3 linked regions of the Homo sapiens genome follow. The protein of the gene in region 3 purifies or fractionates together with the protein of the main gene of each other region. This does not show direct contact. Each region holds a gene or a part of one and is shown on either strand. Other genes may lie near its edges.

Region 1 (7,108 bases), on a different chromosome or scaffold from region 3:
TTTTTTGTAGCGACAAGGGTCTCCCTATGTTGCCCAGGCTAGTCTCCAACTCCTGTCTTCAAGTGGTGCTCCCACCTCGGCCTCCCAGAATACTGAGACTACAGGTGTGACCCACTGTGCCCAGGCAGAATCACTCTTTTTAGAAAATAAGTATTAGTAAGCAGTGGGTTCTGAAATAAATAAAGGGACAATTAGTGTCATGGTGAATAAAAGAAAAAGGGCTCACTAAATTGATTAACGGGTCTGGAGGATACTGGATCCCAAACCCAAGAAGGTGGCACCCAAGAAGAATTACATTTTAAAAATTAAGAAGATTTTTTTAATGAAAAATATTGGATCAGTAATTTCTACCCAGTCTTCTCAAAGGTGAGAGCATAGAAATGTGTCTGGCATTCTTCCAAATACTTGAGCAGTTTCCCAAGCATCAGTTCATCTTTTGAAGACTGGTGGGAATGAGAAAGTCTGACTTATTCTGATTTATATTTTGTGTATAAATACACACAAAGGGATGGGGTTTAGGTTTTAATTTTTTTTTTTTTTTTTTTGCTACGCTGATTTAATCCTGAAGTATTAGCCATCCTGCCAGTTCCATCATGAGAATACTGGAGATGCATGAAGGTTTTTTTTAGTGCACTTCATATACGAGGACTTGAAAACATTTCACTTTCATTACTTTGAGTGAATAAGCAGACTTGATGCTACATGCAGTGAATATTCTTGGATCATTTTTTATTTTTATAAATTGAATCATGTTGAATGTTCTGAGCCTTAGTGTCTAAAGGATCCTGTAATCTAGGTTTTCATGTTTGTGATCATGTGTATATGAAGAACCTAGCCAGGGGTAAGTTTGCAGCGAGAAATGTATGGTCTATTGGCATGGCATTTGCTAAGTTTTTTTCTTCCTGTTTTTAACATGTTTGTCTTCTGCTTCATTAACCTAGTGTGTAGATGAATGCTATACACTTCTTTTTCCTAGGCTTTAATTCCATCAGTCATAAATTTCTTGTAGGTCTTTCACGTGTTAATAATTCCAATTGAGTCAAGTAAATTTGGAGTAGAATAACTTAGTTCCTAAGTTGAATTTCATTTAACTCTCCAAATAATTTTTCAGAAGGGATTCCATTTTTTGCTAATGATAGAATTGACATTTCCAGCTGGGCATAGTGGCTCATGCCTGTAATCCTAGCACTTTGGGAGGCCGAAGCAGGCGGATCACTTGAGGTCAGGAGTTCAAAACCAGCCTGGCCAAAATGGCGAAACCCCATCTCTACTAAAAATACAAAAAAATTAGCCGGGCGCAGCGATCACTTGTAATCCCAGCTACTACGGAGGCTGAGGCAGGAGAATCGCTTGAACCTGGGAGGTGGAGATTGCAGTGAGCCGAGATCATACCACTGCACTCCAGCCTGGAAAAAAAAAGAATTGACATTTCCATCTTTGTAAAAAATAGTTGAAGGCCGAGTGCAGTGGCTCATGCCTGTAATCCCAGCACTCTGGGAGACCAAGGTGGGACGATTGCTTGAGGCCAGGTGTTTAAGACCAGCCTAGGCAACGTAGAGAGATTGCATCTCTACAAAAAAAAAATTTTTTTGAATTAGCCAGGCGTGGTGGCACATGCCTGTAGAGGAAGCTGAGACAGGAGGATTGCTTAAGGCCAGGTGTTCAAGGTTACAGTGAGCAATGATCGAGCCAGTACACTCCATCCTGGGTGACAAGTAAGACCCTGTCTCAAAAAAAAAAAAACTTGACAAATGTAAAGTTGTTTTCCGCCTTTTCTGTGGGTCTCTCTGCAAGCATGTTCCAAGCACGTGTATTTCCTGCTCTGTTTCTCTGAGTATCTAATTGGTGATTTCCAAGATTGCTTCCTTTGCTCTACTGTGTGGTAGATTGGAAACAGATTCTGGTGCCAGGCTGCCTGTCCAGCTTTTTGCTTTGGGGCAAATTAACAGCACTGCCTGGTGGGATAGGGCCTCATTCATTAAAATGGGGGTAACTTACAATCCCTATTTTGCTGGGTTGTTGGGTTTGAAAATTAAATAATGTTTTGAAAGCTCCAAGGCCATTGCTTAGCATAACAGTCCCCCCTCTTTCTCTCCTCTTACTAAGAAACAAGTGAATATATTTCTTGTGTTTGTTGAGTCTCTTTGTGTGTTTTTTTTTTTTTTTTTTTTTTTGAGATTGTCTTGCTCTGTCACCCAGGCTGGAGTGCAGTGGCATGATCTTGGCTCACTGCAACCTCTGCCTCCTGGGTTCAAGCAATTCTCCTGCCTCAGCCTCCAGAGTAGCTGGAATTACAGGCATGCGCCACCACACCTGGCTAATTTTTGTATTTTGAGTAGAGACTGGGTTTTACCATGTTGGCCAGGCTGGTCTTGAACTCCTGACCTCAGGTAATCCGCCTGCCTTGGCTGCCCAAAGTGCTGGGATTATAGGCATAAGCCACCATGCCCGGCCATGTTCCCTTTTTTAAAATGTGTATGAGGAGGGGGCTTACTATGCAAGCGCTTGGAGGCCAACGAGCACTGAAAATGAGGAGAGAGTTCAAAAATCAAGTTAGATCCTGGGATACGCCAACAAATCCAGACACTACAGTTCTTTCGGAGAAACCTGGGGACGAAAAGTAAGGCTTTGACCTCAGAAAATGAACATACAGGAAAAATAATGTGTCCTAATGTGTCCTAATGAAATTTCTCTAGTATTCACATGTTATAAAATGTTAGGAAGAAAGAAGATGTGTCCTCCTACAAGCCATAAATCAGAATTCTAATAATCTAAAGCTAATTAGAAAAATATTACATGTTAAATATTAAATATTAGAATAGAAAAATGTATGAGGGAAAAAAATTGAGACACAGCTGAATTTTTCAGGCTGTTCCAGCACTAAAAAAAAAATACAGGAGAAGAATGTCACATATTTTCCTCTTCCTCCCCCTCCAGATTCCATAATATCAAATTCATAACTTTTCATTTGCGCATGCCTTATTTTCCATTCCTTGTTTGTCACTAATCCTGTTAGTAAAAGGATTCCCCCACCTATGTTCATAATTAAGTTTTGGTCTAAAAAGAACTACAAACAGAAGCACAGTTCCCTAGATTTCTAATTTTTTTTTATTTTATCACAGCCAGTTAACTTATTACATTGGATACTTAAACACATAGTACCATAAACTGGATGTGGTCTTGTAGCCGCCAGATCTTCAGTTTTGACTTTGGCCCAATTCTCCTAGAAGTACTTAATTTTAATTCATTTTATTACCTAACGTCCTATTAATAATCCCGTTGGTTTCAAAGTATATTCTTAGGTTTCACAAGAGGCTGAAATTTGGTCTTAGGGGTTGTCACTTAAAAATAACTAATGTAATTTTTGGCCGGGCACGGTGGCTCATGCCTGTAGTCTCAGCACTTTGGGAGGCCAAGGCTGGCAGATCACGAGGTCAGGAGTTCGAGACCAGCCTCACCAATATGGTGAAACCCCATCTCTACTAAAAGTAGAAAAATTAGCCAGGCACGGTGGCGGGCGCCTGTAATCCCAGCTACTCAGGAGGCTGAGGCAGGAGAATCACTTGACCCCAGGAGGCAGAGGTTGCAGTGAGCCAATATCGCCCACTACACTCCAGCCTGGGCGACAGAGGGAGACTCCATCCAAAAAAAAAAAAAAGAAAAAAAAATGTCATTTTTAATTGTATTGTTTCAGGGCGTTTTAGAGTATTTGTTTTTCAGTGTTAGCTTTGTTTGTGTTTCCCCCCTCCCCTTTTCCCTGATTTTCTTTTCAGACGTCTTTTTACAAGGGAAACGGTTCCACGAAGCCTTGGAAAGCATACTTTCACCCCAGGAAACCTTAAAAGAGAGAGATGAAAATCTCCTCAAGTCTGGTTACATTGAAAGTGTCCAGCATATTCTGAAAGATGTCAGTGGAGTGCGAGCTCTTGAAAGTGCTGTTCAACATGAAACCTTAAACTATATAGGTCTGCTGGACTGTGTGGCTGAGTATCAGTAAGTATGAGATTGGAGGTGAATTAATACAGCGTAGGACAGATGGTGCCTGTCAAAGGTGTGCCTGTAGGTACTGTAGCCTCTGTCTGTTTAATGTCCAGACCTTTGTGCTAGGTAAAAGAATTGGGTGGGGCGGGGTTGAGAACAGGTACAAGGAGAAGAGCCACGTAACCTTTGTCATCCAGTACTCCAAAATCAAATTGTTTGCTGGAGAAAGGTATATTCTTTGTTTGTTTGTTTTGTTTTGAGACGGAGTGTCACCCAAGCTGGAGTGCAGTGGTGCAATCTTGGCTCACTGCAACCTCCGTCTCCCAGGTTCAAGCGGTTCTCCTGCCTCAGCCTCCTGAGTAGCTGGGACTACAGGCATGCACCACCGCACCTGGCTAATTTTTGTATTTTTAGTAGAGACAGGGTTTCACCATGTTGGCCAGGCTGGTCTCAAACTCCCGACCTCAAGTGATCCATCCACCTTGGTTTCCCAAAGTGCTGGGATTACAGGCGTGAGCCACTGCACCTGGCCGAGATTTTTCAATCTCCCTAACATGGCCTGTTTGCCAGCCTGTCCTTCCCCTCCCCCAAAGCAAGGTACCTGCCATAAGATCCAATTTCATTCCTGCGTTTTCTTTCCTGTTTTTCTAAAGATAGCACCATGATCTGTTGGTTCTGAAAATCAACTCTTCCTGGCTTCCAGGCAGTGCTTGACATGGATCAGAGATCTGAACTTACTAAAGCTTCCCATGGTTGTTTTGTTTTGTTTTGTTTCGTTTTGTTTTTTGAGACGGAGTTTTGCTCTTGTTGCCCAGGCTGGAGTGCAGTGGTGCGATTTCAGCTCACTGCAACCTCCATCTCCTAGGTTCAAGCTATTATCTTGCCTCAGCCTCCCAAGTAGCTGGGATTACAGGCATGCGCCACCATGTGTGGCTGATTTTGTATTTTTAGTAGAGATGGGGTTTCTCCATGTTGGTCAGGCTGGTCTCGAACTTCGGACCTCAGGTGATCCGCCTGCCTCAGCCTCCCAAAGTGCTAGGATTGTAGGCATGAGCCACCACGCCCGGTCCCCATGGTTTTTATATCGTAGCTGTCTTACTGTTTTACTCAGGTACTTCAGAGTCCAAGTGTTACAGGAAAGGGGTCCTGATCCAGACCCCGAGAGGGTTCTTCGATCTCGGGCAAGAAAGAATTTAGGTTGAAGGCAGGCACAGTGGCTCACGCCTGTAATCCCAGCACTTTGGGAGGCCGAGGTGGGCAGATCACCTGAGGTCAGGAGTTCAAGACCAGCCTAGCCAACATGGCAAAACTCCGTCTCTACTAAAAATACAAAAATTAGCCAGGCGCAGTGGTGTGTGCCTATAGTCCCAGCTACTCGGGAGTCTGAGGCAGGAGAATCACTTTAACCCGGGAGGCAGAAGTTGCAGTGAACCGAGATGGTGCCACTGCACTCCAGCCTGAGCAACAGGTGAGACTCTGTCTCAAAAAAAAAAAAATAAAAGAAAGAAAAGAAAAAGCATTCAGGATGAGTCTGCAGTGCAAAGTAAAAGCAGGTTTATTAATAAAGTAAAGTAGTGGAAGTATAGCTACTCCATAGACAGAGCAGGGCGTTCCTGAAAGTAAGAGGAGGAACACTTCCACCCTAAGTACAGTGCTCATATATATAAGATAAAAAAAGAGATCTTGGGGAGATGTGCTCTACTGCAAGGGTTTGTGATAAAGGATTAATTTTCTTAATTATTATATTTTGCAAGAATCGATACTATCTTTAAAGCAAAATTAGGAATGCCTTCGTTCTCCAGATATCAGGGTATCTGGACACTCCCAAGTCTGGGTCTGTTTAGTAAACATTATTAATTTGTTCCCTTAACCTTAAACATCTAGAGGCTATGAATGCCTGACTTTCTGGGAATGCAGCCCAGCAAGGCCCAGCCTCACTTTCCTAGCCCTCACTCAAGATGGAGTTGCTCTCGTTCGAACGCCTCTGATACAAAGGTGGCTACAACCTGCAGGTACCCCTAATCCAAATAAGGCAAGCGATCACTAAGAACAAGATAGAAAAATCCGTTCATGTAAACCTTGAAGCTCTAGTTAAAATTTAAGTTTAAAAGCTTGTCTATTCCACAGCCCAATACAAATTCGTAAACTTTCTTAAAACATTATGAGATTTTTTTTTGGTTATTTATTTATTTATTTTTAGTTCATCAGCTATTGTGTGGCCCAAGACAATTCTTCCAATGTGGGCCAGGAAGCCGAAAGAGTGGGCACCCTTGATAGTCTGAAAACTGTTTAGACCACCTAATGGTTTTATTTTTTATTTATTTATTTTTGAGACGGAGTTTCACTCTTGTTGCCCAGGTTGGAGTGCAATGGCGTGATCTTGGCTCACTGTAACCTCTGCCTCCTGGGTTCAAGCGATTCTCCTGCCTCAGCCTCCCAAGTAGCTGGGATTAGAGGTGCACGCCACCACACCCGGCTAATTTTTGTGTTATTAGTAGAGATGGGGTTTCGCCATGTTGGCCAGGCTGGTCTCGAACTCCTGACCTCAGGTGATCCACCCACCTCAGCCTCCCAAAGTGCTGAGATTACAGACGTGAGCCACCGCGCCTGGCCTAGACCACCTAATGGTTTTATAGCACAACTGCGTCATATCTGAGAAGAGCCCTGTATACCAAGAGATTTAATAGACTTTGGTTGCCTTTTAGATAAACCAAGGAAGCCATACAGTCACCTCCACCCAAGGCCTACAAGAAGTTCCTGACACCCAATGCTTGTCATAGAGATGATAAAATATGTCCATAGCACTGTTGTTTGTTTTTTGCTTTTTAAGTCAACATCAACCTTGGTAATATGAACATTTTTGAAACTACGGTTTTTTTTTGTTGTTTTTGTTTTTGTTTTTGAGACAGAGTCTTGCTCTGTCACCCAGACTGGAGTGTGGTGGCCCAATCTCAGTTCACTGCAACCTCTGCCTCCTGGGTTCAAGCAATTCTCCTGTGTCAGCCTCCCCAAGTGGCTAGGACTACAGGCACCCACCACCACGCCTGGCTAATTTTTTGTGTTTTTAGTAGAGATGGGGTTTGGACATGTTGCCCAGGCTGGTCTCGAGCTCCGGGCCTTGAGTGAT
Region 2 (7,108 bases), on a different chromosome or scaffold from region 3:
GAATTAAATAAGATAATTTTATATAATGCTTTAGTATTTCCAATAAATTTAAGACCTATTACCTTTTTCAGGTCCTTAACTTCTGAAATATGAGGGAAAAAACAGCTTCTATGTAATATTTAACAAATATGTTTTGTACTTGCATATTGATAATTTTTACATACCTTAAGATAATAGGCTAACCAGAATATTCAATTAACTATTGTGGCCATTTTTCAAATAAAGATAAAAAATTGAAAATTAATTTTGATCAGTATCCTTAGGAGTTTAACAATTGTAATACAAATGTGCAAGTAAGTCCAATTACTCCCATTCTTCTCAATCCAACTTCAAATAAAGTAACAGTGACTGTTAAGAGTTAGGAAACAGTCTCCCTTTTCTTCCCCTTCCACTGTCCTGACAACCCCAACTAGTCTAGCATTTAGCAATTCATAACACATATTCACATATATTATCATGTTTGAGTCTCAGAATTTCCTATGAGGAAGATAAAGATGTCATAAATAAGACATTTCACAGAATAAACAAGAAGTTCAGAGAGGTCAATTAACTTGTCTAAGGTTAACCAGCAAGTGAGTTGCAGAGACAAACTAAGCTTTTTGACTCTACTTCCGGTGGTCTTTCCATTATTCAATACTATTCCATTCCTCAGTTTTAACCATCATAAACTAAAATTCCAGAGAGCAATAATCAAGCTTTATAATCACTACCTATGTGACCTTAGGTGAGTAATTTAACCTGCTTCATCTTTGTTTCCATACCTGGCAAAAGAAAGACCACAAAAAAAACCTACTTCATAGGGTGATAACAGAATAAAATAATGTATGTAAATAATTTAGCATAGTACCTATAGCATACATAATAAGTATTCTATACATAGTAGCTATATTCTGACCTACAAAGAAGACTATTTTAATTTGCATCACCCCCTCTCCCCAAAAACACACATCCCTAGAGTAGGATCATTCAAAAAACCTTTGCTGGCCTGAACAGAATCACAGAACCTCTGTGTTGGTGGATAACTAAGTTACTCAGCCCAATTATCCACAAAATCTAAGAATCCCTCCTGTTGAATAAATGAAAATACTAGATTCTCTTTGGTTATAGCAGATGATAATTGAGATAATACATGAAAAAATATGTATAGTCATTTCAATACATGAAAAATTGCTTCAATTTTTACTGATCCATCTGTGCTTTTTAGCCACCCTGCTTGGTTCACTGATTTCGGTTCAGAATTAAGTATCTAATAAAATGTATTTTTATTTTCAAATCTTGAACCAAATGACGATCTACACAACATCCCTTAAATGGGTTCTAATTTTTAATTTCAGAGTAATGTAAATACAAGCTACAAAACAGGTTTCTTTGCTGAATTTTTAATGTCTTTTCTGATTAAAAATTTAGGTTTACTGAATAAATTTAAATACACTAAAGCAAAATTAAAAAAAAAACAACCCATCCACATTGCCATACAGCCCAGAGAGAACTGTTTATAGGTCCTCCCAATCCTTCTTCTAGGAAAGTTTTTATAAAATTCAATTTTTGCCATATTTTATATTCTTTTCTCACTCTTACATGAGCATATATATTTATAACATATATTACTGCTATAATTCTCCAAAAACCCTTTTAATGACAATAAAACTGAATTAAATATTTTAGATTTTAAGTATATGTATTTTTGAGCATATACTTTTAATCACTGATATGTAACAATTCTTATAGTAGGTCCATGGTACTAAAATGATAAATAAATTTGGTTTGGAAAAGAACTTGTTTTAGTAAGGTCAGGAGAAGTAAACAAGAGATAAAAGATAATAGCCAAAAACCTTGGGTTTTACTTCCCTATTCACTATGTAATCTTAGGTGTTTTTTTTTAAACTTCAGAAAATACCAAAAATTCAAGAGCTCCTCTCTCACTGTACATACTAGATGTAATATTCCATTACAATACCACTAAAGTGCTAAGATGCACAAAAATGAGAAAAAAGCAGACTCTTTATGTAAAGATCTGTCAACTGAGAATACAGGAGGGTATAAGCCAGGAACAAACTTTCAAAAACAAACCAGTATTTAGGGGAAGTATACACACGTCTGCACTGATGGATAAACGAATGAGCACATATGTGGTACTGTAAGCACAGAAAATGTTAATGGAAGAAAACTATGGGTGTTCAATGTAAAATTCTTATAATTTTCTAAATGCTTATAATTTTTCATAATAAAATGTCAGAAAAACAAATCATCTACCTCTCACCTGTACCAAAGGATGCATATAAATGAAAGCTGATAACACATGATTCTGACTCACCCTCTCCTTGTCAAGAATAATTTCACAGGTTGAGTCCCATACATAAAGTTAAAAAATCAGGGCCGGGTGTGGTGGCTCACACCTGTAATCCTCAGCACTTTGGGAGGCCGAGGCAGGCGGATCACGAGGTCAGGAGATCAAGACCAAACCCCGTCTCTACTAAAAATACAAAAAAAATTAGCCGGGCGTGGTGGCAGGCACCTGTAGTCCCAGCTGCTGGGGAGGCTGAGGCAGGAGAATGGCGTGAACCCAGGAGGCAGAGCTTGCAGTGAGCCGAGATCACGCCACTGCACTCCAGCCTGGGCGACAGTGCAAGACTCTGTCTCAAAAAAAAAGTTAAAAAATCAGGATACAGGCCAGGTGTGGTGGCTCCCACCTGTAATTCCAGCACTTTGGGAGGCCGAGGCAGGTGGATCACCTGAGGTCAGGAGTTTGAGACCAGCCTGACTAACATGGTGAAACCCTGTCTCTACTAAAAATACAAAATATTGCCAGGCGTGGTGGCAAGCACCTGTAACCCCAGCTACTCGGGAGGCTGAGGCAGGAGAATCGCTTGAACCCAGGAGGGGGACGTCGCAGTGAACTGAAATCGTGTCACTGAACTACTCCAGCCTGGGCAACAAGAGCTAAACTCTGTCTCAAAAAAAAAAAAAAAAAAAAAAAAGGATACAGAAAAGTAGTTAAATGAAATACATTTATTTAAGGCAAACCTGATGGAAAAGTGGCAAATGACAGGTGAATAGCAATCTGTGTTTCAGTGAAGTGATTCAAACAAGGTCCTTTAGATTCTGAAATGTGTGCTCCTACCAGGTTTAAAGTATCAGGTTGATACTTTAAAAATACTGGAGTACAATAAGAGGTGACTGACTTAAACAAGGCAATTAATGTTATTAAAATTAACTCAAAGAAAAAAGTCAAGAAAAGTACTCTACAAATTCCTACAAGTGTTACATATTAGATCATTATAAGGAAAATAAGGCACCTGGTTATCCAGGCTACCACTGAAATAAAGGTATTGTGTTACAAATCAATTGTAATCATCAATATAATTACAAGATGTATCTCAAGAAGTCAGTCTGTGTAATCCCAGCACTTTGGGAGGCCAATGCGGGTGGATCACTTGAGGTCAGGAGTTCAAGACCAGCCAGGCCAACATGGTGAAACCCTATCTCTACTAAAAATACAAAAATTAGCTGGGCATAGTGGTGCGTGCCTGTAGTCCCAGCTACTCAGGAGGCTGAGGCATGAGAATCTCCTGAACCCGGGAGGTGGAAGTTGCAGTGAACCAAGATCGCACCATTGCACCCCAGCTTGCATGATAGAGTGAGACCAAGTTTCAAAAAAAAAAAAAAAAAAAAAAGTCAGTCTACAATAATACCTACCACTTGGGTAGCTTAAAATGTGCCAGTTAGTGAGCCAGTCACGTGTACTGTCTTATGTAAGCCTCATTACATTTCTATGACATAGTTTAATACTACCATTAACAGAGGAAGAAAAGGTTGAAAACAACTAAATAATTTGCATAAGGCTACACAACTAGTAAGTAATCTAGCCAGGATTCAAACAAGGTCCTCTAGATTCTGAAATGTGTGCTCCTATATACCATTATGTTCTATTGCCTTCCAAAACACTCAGATGATCCCATAATCTCCAGGACAATCAAGAACTTCAACTAAAATGACAAGAATATGCTTTACAGAATGAAATCAAATATTTATGACTCATCAGTACCTTCAATAACCTTAAAACACAGTGAGAAAAAAGAGGCACATGTCAAAATAAAGGTAAAATCAGATTTTTGGCCAGGCGCGGTGGCTCATGCCTGTAATTCCAACACTTTGGGAGGCCGAGGTGGGTGGATCCCCTGAGGTCAGGAGTTCGAGACCAGCATGGCCAACATGGTGAAACCCCATCTCTACTAAAAATACAAAAATTAGCCGGGCTGGTGGCAGGCACCTGTAATCCCAGCTACTCGGGAGGCTGAGGCAGGAGAATCACTTGAACCCGGGAGGTGGAGTTGCAGTGAGCCAAGATCACGCCACTGCACTCCAGCCTAGGGGACAAGAGCGAGACTTTGTCTCAAAAAAAAAAACAAACAAAAACAAAACCAGATTTTTAAAAAGAAAAAACGAACAGGAAAAGAGATGTCATAAGGCAATAATCATTAATTACCAAATTTACTGAATGTAAGAACTACTTGATAAGGTTTATTTGTTGACATTTTGTTGAGGGGTAAGGGAAGTTGTTTTTACATTGTCAATGGCCTTAATATCCAGTCTTTTTCAGTAACCTCCTCCCATAGTTAACACTCTATACTTGTTATCACCCAAAACTGTTCAGCCTCTGAAATCAATACTCTACTTTCTAGTCATAACCTCCTGGTCCCTAAAGAAGAAATATAGTAAAATAAGAAATGATCTGAAGTAAAACAGACCTGGGTTCCAAACTCTAACCCCGTTAAGTTCTTGGGCAAATTACTCAATCTCTCTGGGCTTTGATACAACATGGGGGTAATAGTAAGGATGACACCTGCAGCCTAGGGTTGTGAGGATCAGAGAGTACGCATGTTAAGATCCTAAGGAGGTGCTAGGTGCATACTAGCAACTCAGTGTCACTCCCCTTCTCAGATCCACCTCCAAACTTCAGTCCAGCAGCCTCTAGCCTCATTCACATCCTCCATTTTAGCCTACCCAGTGCTACCGCAAAGCTAAAACCCAACTCAGATGTTATTCTCTCTGTTGTTACGCTCTGTTGGTTCTCCAGTGTCTTGTTAGATAAAGCCCATGTTCCTAAGTACAGCATCCAAATTCCTTCAGTAACTATTTCTCCAGCCTCATCTCCTACCACGTTCTGTTTACTCACCAATACCATGCAGTTTAAGCTTCAGTAACGGTGAATTACTACTCTTAGCCTACATGCATAGAATTATGCTGGTCTACCTATGTACGATCTGTTCCATCTACCTAGAAATAAACACTAACAGCAGGCATTTCACATTACAAACACTACTTTAGGCTCTTGGAGGGGTGTGTCTGCACATGCTGTGTCTGTGTGTGTGTATATATAAATGACATAGCCCTATTTCTTACAGTCTAAATAAAAAAAAGAATTACAGTAAAAGGTCCAACCTGTAACGAGAGTTACTCTCAACCTTTTTAGCTATCAACATAATTCCTTAGGAAAGAATTATGTGACCATTCCCAATCCATATATAGATGTCATTACTCCCTATGCTTAAGTCTATGGACCCCTGTCACAATTATATGTTGGATGTTTGTCTCCCTCAACTGAATTGTAAGCTCTATAAAAGCTGGGTCTTGTCCGTCTTGCTCACTGCGGTACTCCAGTAGTTAGCCCAATGACTAACACATAGTAGATATTAGTATTTGTCGAAATAATAAAAGAATGAATGAATGTAGTGAATGTGAGTGATATAAGTGCTGTAAGTTTAAGTGTTACAAGTTTGATTAAGTGCTGTCATGAAATAAAACGTCACATCAACAGTAACACACACAACTTTGCAAATTCTGATGAACCTGGTTCATAAGGCTATTCAGACATCTCTCAGATGTTGTAACCAAGACTATATCATAATAAGATTTGAACTCCTCAGGAGAGTCAATCAATACTCATGTAAGGAAGAAAACTCAATAAAACATTAACAGTGTAGGCTCTGAAGTCAAAAGGATTCTCCCAGCTCTGTCATTTCCTAGTTAAAAAACCTAACTCTTCCATCTATAAAATGGGGAGAACAGCAGCACACAGGTAGTAGAAAGGCCATGAGGATTAAATCTGTGCCTGAGACAGAGTGAAGCCCTCAATGCATCAGTTAATATTATTGCTGTTGTAGCTGGTTACTTACTTTGTACAAGACACCATACTGGATGCTTTGCCACAGAGCAGTAATTAAAACAGACCAGGCCCCAGTGTTCATTCATTCAATAAATATGTACTGATTACCTACTGTATCACTTTAGATACTAAACAAAACAGTCACACACAGTCCCTGTCCTGATGAAGTTTGCATTCCTGAGGAAAAGACAGTAAGCATGTACCTCAGATAAAATACAAGTATGTGTGTAAAATGCTTGTTACTGCATCCACTCAAAGCTTTTACACACTTTACACACATGGGTACTAAGTGATTTATGATTTACTCAATGTCAAGGGATCACCAAACTGATTATGGAACACTCAGCCTCATTCCACTAAAATCTAAGTTCTGGCTCAGGGTCTGCCTGGCAAATAGAAGGCACTGAATAATCTCTGCTGAGTGATGCCAAAGGTATAGAGTTAGCCATGAAAAATATCCTTTAGAAATGAAAATCTAACATTTCTCCTGTTATATGAGTTGAGAAGAATGAGATTCCTATTTAACAAGAGACAAAGTGTATAAGAGGTCCAACTTTTCCCTTCATCATCATATTAGCATTTTTTTAAAAGGATTTCTTGACCTGTTCAAAGCTAGAATAAATCACTCACTCACTGTTAGTCATGGGTTACTAGAATCCTCCCCCTACCCTTCCTCTAGAAATAAAATATCCAAAATGATAATGGTTGGATAACAGTTGAGGATACAGGATTAAATTACTTCACAGAATGCAGGGAGACTGATAGTCACAGTTTGCCCAGATAATGATTTCTATAACTGAAGCTTTAAGACATCCAATGTTACTTATAATCCATATGGGTGAATTCAGTAAATGTCAAAACAGTACATTGCAAATAATCAATATCCTTGGTACTGACAGGTCAAAATACTTCAATATAATCCTATTAACTTTCTGTTTTAAA
Region 3 (7,108 bases):
AGCCAAGGCTGGACCCCACCATGGGAAAGACATCTGGCCCTGCAGGGACCCCAGGCTCAGGGGAAAGTCTGGAGGGCTTCTCAGCAGAGGTGCCCTCACCCTGGAGCCTGAACCATAGAAAAGAACCAAGAATGTGGAACAAGAGCAGAATGGGAATCCTCAGAGTGGGGTCTGCCCAGAGCTAGCACAGTATGTGAACTTGCAGGGACAGAAGAAAAAGCAAAAAGCCCGCACTGAGACGTGCTTTCTCTGGAATGTCCTGGAACAGTGGCTGCCACTGACTGAGCACCTGCTGTACAGGAGGCAGAGTTCTAGGAATCCCACACGCCTTATCGCTAACCCCCAAAGTAGCCCCATGATGCAGACACTCTTCCCCACTGCACAGATGAAGAGGCAAGGAGAGGGTAAGAAACCACCCATGACCACACAGCCAGGCAGGGGCCAACCCAACTCGGCCTGGGCCTCGCCCACCCTCACCCACACGGACCGCTCTGCTCCATGAAAGCAGCAAGACAAGCCCAGGGGCATCTCCAAGCCAGCTCCTGCAGGACGGGGATGACCCACTGCACAGCTGCCACTTGCCCTCTCTTGGTGGGGACGGCCAAGGACCCAGCCCCCCACACCCAGCCTGGCCCAGATCTGGCCTCCCAAGAAGCTGCCTTCACGGCAGGCAGCCCCAAGCAGGGAGCCTCACCTCCCTCCTCACTGATACCCGGTGTTGTGAGGATGCCGAGTATGCAGCCTGTAAAGTGCTCATAACATGCCACTCAGGGATAATGGTGGCAATGAGCCCCCTGCCTGTCTCCCTTCTGCCTGGTCAGGCCACCTGCCCACCAGATGGTATCACATGACACCCTGCTCCTTCCTCCCTTCCTGCTAGCCCAGGAGCCTCCGGAGGATGCACCCAGCCTGCATGTCTTCCCTCTGCCCCATGTGTGGCTGCAGAGGCAGGTCATACAGGAGGGGACCAGAGAACAGGCAGTACTGCACAGGATAGCTTCAAACCCCAGCTACTAGCTGTGAAACCTTGGGCAACCTACTCCCCAGCTCTGTGCCTCTGTTTCCTCATCTGAAAAGCAGGAACACAGCCTACTTCATTAAGTTGTATGGATTGGAAGAGTTAACATTCAGAAGCATTGAACAGTGCCTGGCGCACAGCAAGCACTCATACGTGGTAGCGCCTTCTGCTGCCAGGGGTAGCATCATCGTCTCAGCAGCTGCAGCATGCACATGTGCAGACCCCACCCTGCACAGACCCACGTGCTCCAGGGGCCTGGAAGGCATATACCGTCCAACCCGACAAGGGGCCCAGGGTCCATCCCGCCCCTTCAAGGCCCGCCAGAACCCACCAAGCCACCAGCCACCACCGCAGCCCTCACCATGCCTTCCATGCCATGGGGCAGCAGCAGCACAATGCCATTATGCCGCACCCACTTGGCCTGGCCGGTGCTGATGAACTGGTCGATGATGCACTGGGCCGTGTTGTGGAAGTCCCCAAACTGGGCCTCCCAGAGGACCAGGGCATTGGGGCTGGCCATGGCATAGCCCAGCTCAAAGCCTAAACAGAAGACAAGATAGAGCTTGCTGCACACAGTCACCAAGTGGCAGTGGCTCCAGTCAAATTTAGCCTTTCTCAGTATATCCTCCATGCCCCCACCCATCCTTCTCACAAGCCAGGACGAACCCAGGGATTCCCTGGGATTCAAAGGGTACAATGTACCATCCTGGGGGCTGACAACATGCTCAGAGATGCTACCCTCAGCCCTGCTATCATGTGTGGTCAGGTTCAACCTTATTTAGGTATCCTGGGGAGGCAACAGGGACCATCTGTCAAGAACTCCTTAAAAACATGCAGAGCTGCTAAGGAGAAGGGGCAGAAACAGCCCTAGAGGCATCTGCCTGGGGGCGGGGGGCTGCCTGGCCTCTAGGGGCAGGCAGTGAGGACGAGGTGAGCCAGCTAATGATGCATCTGAGGGAGAGCATGCACAGGGGACACAGGCAGGGAAGCCCAGAGCCCAGAGAAGGGATCTCAGTGCAGTGTTCCTAGGGTGCAGGGCAGAGGAGGCAAGATGGGGCTCAAAGGAATGTGAGAGGGCTGGGCCAAGACTGGACTGCTCAGCAGCTGGAACCCACAGCAGACTGTGTTGGGCTCTCTGTCTGCGCCCACTGGGGCCCTGATACCCACAAAACCCCTCAAGGCAAGGAGGTCCCCCCAACTGGGATCCCCAAGGGGCCCAGATGGGACACGATTTCACCTCCCACATGGCCTTAGGTGAGGGCAGCCCAATCACCATCCCCCAGGGCCATCCCCTAAGGGCCTCTGAGCATCTCTCGCCCCTCCCAGGCCCTGGCCCCGGTCCCTTCCCAGCCCATCTCTTGTCCCCAGGTGTCTGGGGCCTGCCTGGCCTGCAGGAGAGCGTGGACCCACCCAGGACTCCGTACTCCGAGAGGGAGCTGTTGCACACGGTGTACGGGGCCTGGTCAGGCCAGAGATGATTCATAGGCACACACGTCCTGCGGTCAACCTCCTGGTCATGGAGAACATGGTGCCGGTGACTGCAGAGACACAGACCGGGGCAGGGACAGAGGGCAGGTGGGCTGGCACCTGTTCACCTGGAGCAGGGGAGCTGGGCAGCAGGAGGCAGGCAAGCCTCCGTCACTGTCCCAGGAAACCTGCAGGGTCCCACAACATGGCATCCAAGAAGGCTGTGGAAAACCAGAGCCATGTGGTCCCTCCTGCAGCCTGTCCCCCACCAGGCCTCCCCAGCCTGCCCCCTGCCTGCTAGCAGCGCCCACACACCACGCACTGGGGGGTCTGGGGGAAGGAGCTGTGAGTTGTGGCACCTCTCTGAATGTCAGCTTTTCACCCATAAAGGGGACCTGATAAGACACTTCCCAGGTGCCAGCTAGAGCCAGAGACCCTAGGAGGCCACTTCCCCTGCCCCGTCTTGCTGGCTTCTTTACCATCTCACCAGCCCTGTCCCAACTCACAAGAGGCAGAAACCACCGTGCAGTAGCCGAGGTGGGCACAGTAAGTGAGGGGCGCCTGGCTGAACCCCAGTCCCTGGCAAGGACTGACAGGTAGCTCTGGGTGCATCAGAGGGCCACCTGGGCCCTGGCTGGAGCAAGACCAGCCGAGATAAGCAACCAGGAATGAGAAAGCCAGCTGGTCAAGTCCTGGAAGCCACACCACCCTGGCTTGCTAACCAGGAGCGGACTGAGGCAGGATCTAGAACATTTTAGGAACCCGAACCAGAGGAAATGTGGTGTGGACAACTGACAAGTGTCAAGTCCCCATTTGGATTCACAAAGACAACTGCAAACAAGCAAGATAGGGGCTGACTTAACAGCAGTACACACACACACCACACACATACATACACATGCCACACATACCACACACACATACACATCCCCACACACCAAACACATACATACACACACACCACACACATACATACACACACCACACACACCAAACACCACATACACACACATCACACATACCACACATACATGCAAAACACACCACACACATATACACCACACACATCCATGCACACACACCAAACACCACACACACTACACACACCACACATACCACACACACCACACATACCACACAACACACACACCACACAGACTACACACCACAAACACAATCACACACACCACACACACTACATACACTACACACACACAACCACACACACCCCACAAATACCACACCACACATGCACCAAACATGACACATACCACACATATCACACGCACACCACACTACACACCACACACCCCACACATACCACACAAACACCCTCACACACATTACACACATACACACCCTACACACACACCAAACATACACACACATCACACACACCATACACGCCCCACACACACTATACACACCCCACACACATACGCACACCCCCACAAACCACACACGCACACACCACACATACACCACACATACCCCATACACACTCAACACACAACACACACCACACACACCACAAATGCACCACACCCACCACAAACACCACACACGACACACACCACACATGCACCACACAACACACCACACACCCACAAATACACACCACACCCCCACACACACCACACACACCATACACACATACACACCACACATACAACAAACACACCACACACACGCACCACACACACCCCCTATACACTCCCCCCACTCACCACATACCACACACCACATACACACCAAACACACCACACACACACACCACACACAACTCGCCCACACTCACCACACACCCCCCACACACACATGATCCTGAGGACCACAGATGGCCACCAGCTTGACCTTAGTGGACAGCTTGGGCCCAGCAGTGAGCTCTGCACACTTGCCCTGGGGGGTCAGCGAGGTGGCCATCTGATGATGCCACCTGAGGGCAGGGGCTAGGGATGCTGTGAAGATCCCACCCCAACAAAGGCCCCCTCGGGATCCCCAAGCCAGGCCCAGCTTCTGCTCCAGGTCTCCTGTGCGGATGCTGAGCCCCACTGCGCTCACCTGAATGTGCCCCTCTCCACATCCTGCCCGCTGAGCCGCACGTGGATGCCTTCCTTCAGCAGGGAGCCAAAGGCCATGTACTCTGCCAACGCCCAGTCCACCGTCCGGTTCTTGGTCATGTCCGCACGGCCCCGCAGAATGCGAGAGAGGCCTGTGGGAAAGGAGTGCTGGCCTGAGGGCCAAGGGACAGCCAGCCCTGGGGCGGGTAGGTAGGTGCTCAGCACACACCCCGCACAAAGCAGGGCAGCCATCTGTTGATTTGGTTGGAGGGCAGGGATGCTGCAGGAGGGCCCAGGGCCAGGCACCCCTCCTCCAGCTGAGACAAGGGGCTACCCCGAGCCTGTGGAGGGGTGGAGCAGGTACCACTTGGCAAGCATTGGCCACGTTGCAGACACCGTCAGGCTCAGAGTCATTTACTCAGATCACACAGCTGTCAAGGTACACGGATTTGACTCCAAGTCCCCAGGCTTATGCTGTGCTCCTGTCAGCCCCACACACAGAGGCTAACACACAAACAGAGCGGGCACATGCCCCAAACGCTGTCAGCAGCTGCCCCAGGACATTCGGTCTCGGTGCACACTGTAAGGGAACCCCCTCAGAACTCCCCCAGGTGGGTCAGAGGGTGTGTAGGCACCCCAATACAGCCACAGGGGACCCTCCGGACTTCCCAGGCAAAGGTCACAGTGGCCCCAGCCAAGGGATGCAGTCGGTGACCACCCACATTCTAGTCTCACCCCGGAGTGGGGGGGCTGCCCTCGGTCATTGGTCCAGGCCCCGGCAAGCCACCGTCCTTTCAGCTGCAGAATTCTGCCCACGTTCCAGGCTGCGTTCCAGCCCCTGTATGGGAGCCCTTGCTTTCCTGCTCTTCTGCCTGACCCAGGGACGCCCCGGCAAAGGCATTTGGAAAATCCAAGGTCCCCAACCTAAGACTAGTCACTGGTACCCAGCTGGGAGTGTGGCATCTGGAGCTGCCCAGCTCGCCACGCCCACCCTGAAAAGAGCTACTGTCACGGGCACAGACATGGTGCCGAGAGCTACGTGGACCCACTACAGACTGAGCAGGAATGCGACACACCATCTCTCTTGCATCCCAACCAATCTCCCTTCGAGGCACAGTGTTGGGGTGGGGCCAGCAGCCTGGGCTGCAGCCTGTCCAGCAACCTCACCAGTGTGGATCTTAAAGTCCTCCAGGGGCACAGAGCTGGCCACACTGCCGATGTGGGTGAGCATGTCCTCAGGGATCCCCGTGGCTGGGCATGTCATGCTCTTGGGCTCCCCATCTACGTTGAAGAAGCCTGAGAGGGAGAGAGGCTCTGTCCACACTGTGTCAGTGGTGGGTTCTGATCCCCCTGGCCAGCCTGCCTCCCCAGGACTGAGTGGCCCATGGCTTCCCAAACTCCACCGGCACTCGGACTCACCCTGAGCCCACCCTTGGGACCTGGGACAGCTGGACAGCCACAGCTGCAACTCCCCCACAGGCCCAACACCCACCTCTGGGCCCCAGGGTAACAGCTCTTCTAACCCTGCCCCCCAGGGAGGCCCTCTGAGCACCCTGGCCCCAAGCATCCAGTGCCCAGGGCTTCCTCTCCCACCTGGCTATGCCCTCCCTTTTCAGTGAGCACCTGGCCATCCATGCTCAGAGGGCAATGCTATCCTTGACTTGCAGGAATCGGCCCCACGCAGCTTTGGGGACTCAGTGATAGAGCCTGCAGCCTCTAGACTAGGCAATGACAGCTGTCACCCAGGGCCATTCCAGTCCTGATCCCAGTGCAAGACCTCAAGGCCCAGGGGAGTCCCTCTGAGCCACACACTGCTCGCTCACCAGGCCAGGGGGAGTCCAACCAGTGCTTTATATGCAGAATCTTTTTATCCTTGGACCTGCCATAAGCCTCCTCACAGATCCGGTCGTATTTGGCAATTTCTTCCTGGAATCAGGATGAAGATGTGGACAGAGCACCAAAGCCCTGCGCAGCCAGACGCCCAGTCCACTTGGACTCGTAAGTCCTGGTCCCCATCACCAAGTTCTTCTAGAACTCTCTGTCTCTGGCCTATAGGGACCTCATGGCTAGAAGCCAAAGTCTCAGAGTTCAGGGGATCCTGTACAGGTACCCCGAGGCTGGGCAGGCCTGCAGTGCGCTCAGCAAGGGGCTTGGAGAAGGCTCTGGAAACTTGTAGTCCTTGCCCTCAGAGCTCCATGAAGGTGGAAGGACGAACACTCCATAGATAATTATGGGGACAACCCCAGCTCAGGGCTGCCTCCTACAGGAAGCCTTCCCGCACTCCTGCTCAAGGCTGGACTTCCCCCACATTGCAGTACCCACTGTGTCCCACTTGGCTGTAACTGCATCCTTAGTTCTTGGTCCCCTTTGGTAACTGGGGCCTCTTGGGGACAAGGACCATAGTGGCTACTTCTTTAAATCCTTAGTGCCCAGCACTGGGCTGGTAACATCTACAACCCCTCTCCAGGGTCCCCACCCAAAGTTTGTCTTGGGCGCCCCTGCAGCCTGCCTGCCCACCTCAAACTCCTGCAGGGTGACTGTGCCCTCGGCAATCAGCTTGTCT

The links.
Region 1: the proteins of OGDHL (region 3) and MGME1 purify together in Homo sapiens (co-immunoprecipitation; 2 studies listed by BioGRID and IntAct, with this or other methods). This does not show direct contact.
Region 2: the proteins of OGDHL (region 3) and DLD purify together in Homo sapiens (affinity purification with mass spectrometry; 3 studies listed by BioGRID and IntAct, with this or other methods). This does not show direct contact.

What each region holds. Positions count from the first base shown.
Region 1 is NC_000020.11:17,971,911-17,979,018, forward strand, and holds part of MGME1 (mitochondrial genome maintenance exonuclease 1 isoform 2 precursor), read left to right. Parts: intron 1-796; coding exon of another isoform or gene 797-841; intron 842-3,773; coding exon 3,774-3,993; intron 3,994-7,108. UniProt on the Homo sapiens protein: Metal-dependent single-stranded DNA (ssDNA) exonuclease involved in mitochondrial genome maintenance. Has preference for 5'-3' exonuclease activity but is also capable of endonuclease activity on linear substrates.
Region 2 is NC_000007.14:107,894,141-107,901,248, reverse strand, and holds part of DLD (dihydrolipoyl dehydrogenase, mitochondrial isoform 1 precursor), read right to left. Parts: intron 1-7,108. UniProt on the Homo sapiens protein: Lipoamide dehydrogenase is a component of the glycine cleavage system as well as an E3 component of three alpha-ketoacid dehydrogenase complexes (pyruvate-, alpha-ketoglutarate-, and branched-chain amino acid-dehydrogenase complex).
Region 3 is NC_000010.11:49,738,282-49,745,389, forward strand, and holds part of OGDHL (2-oxoglutarate dehydrogenase-like, mitochondrial), read right to left. Parts: coding exon 7,063-7,108; intron 6,472-7,062; coding exon 6,369-6,471; intron 5,842-6,368; coding exon 5,713-5,841; intron 4,698-5,712; coding exon 4,547-4,697; intron 2,557-4,546; coding exon 2,429-2,556; intron 1,559-2,428; coding exon 1,380-1,558; intron 1-1,379.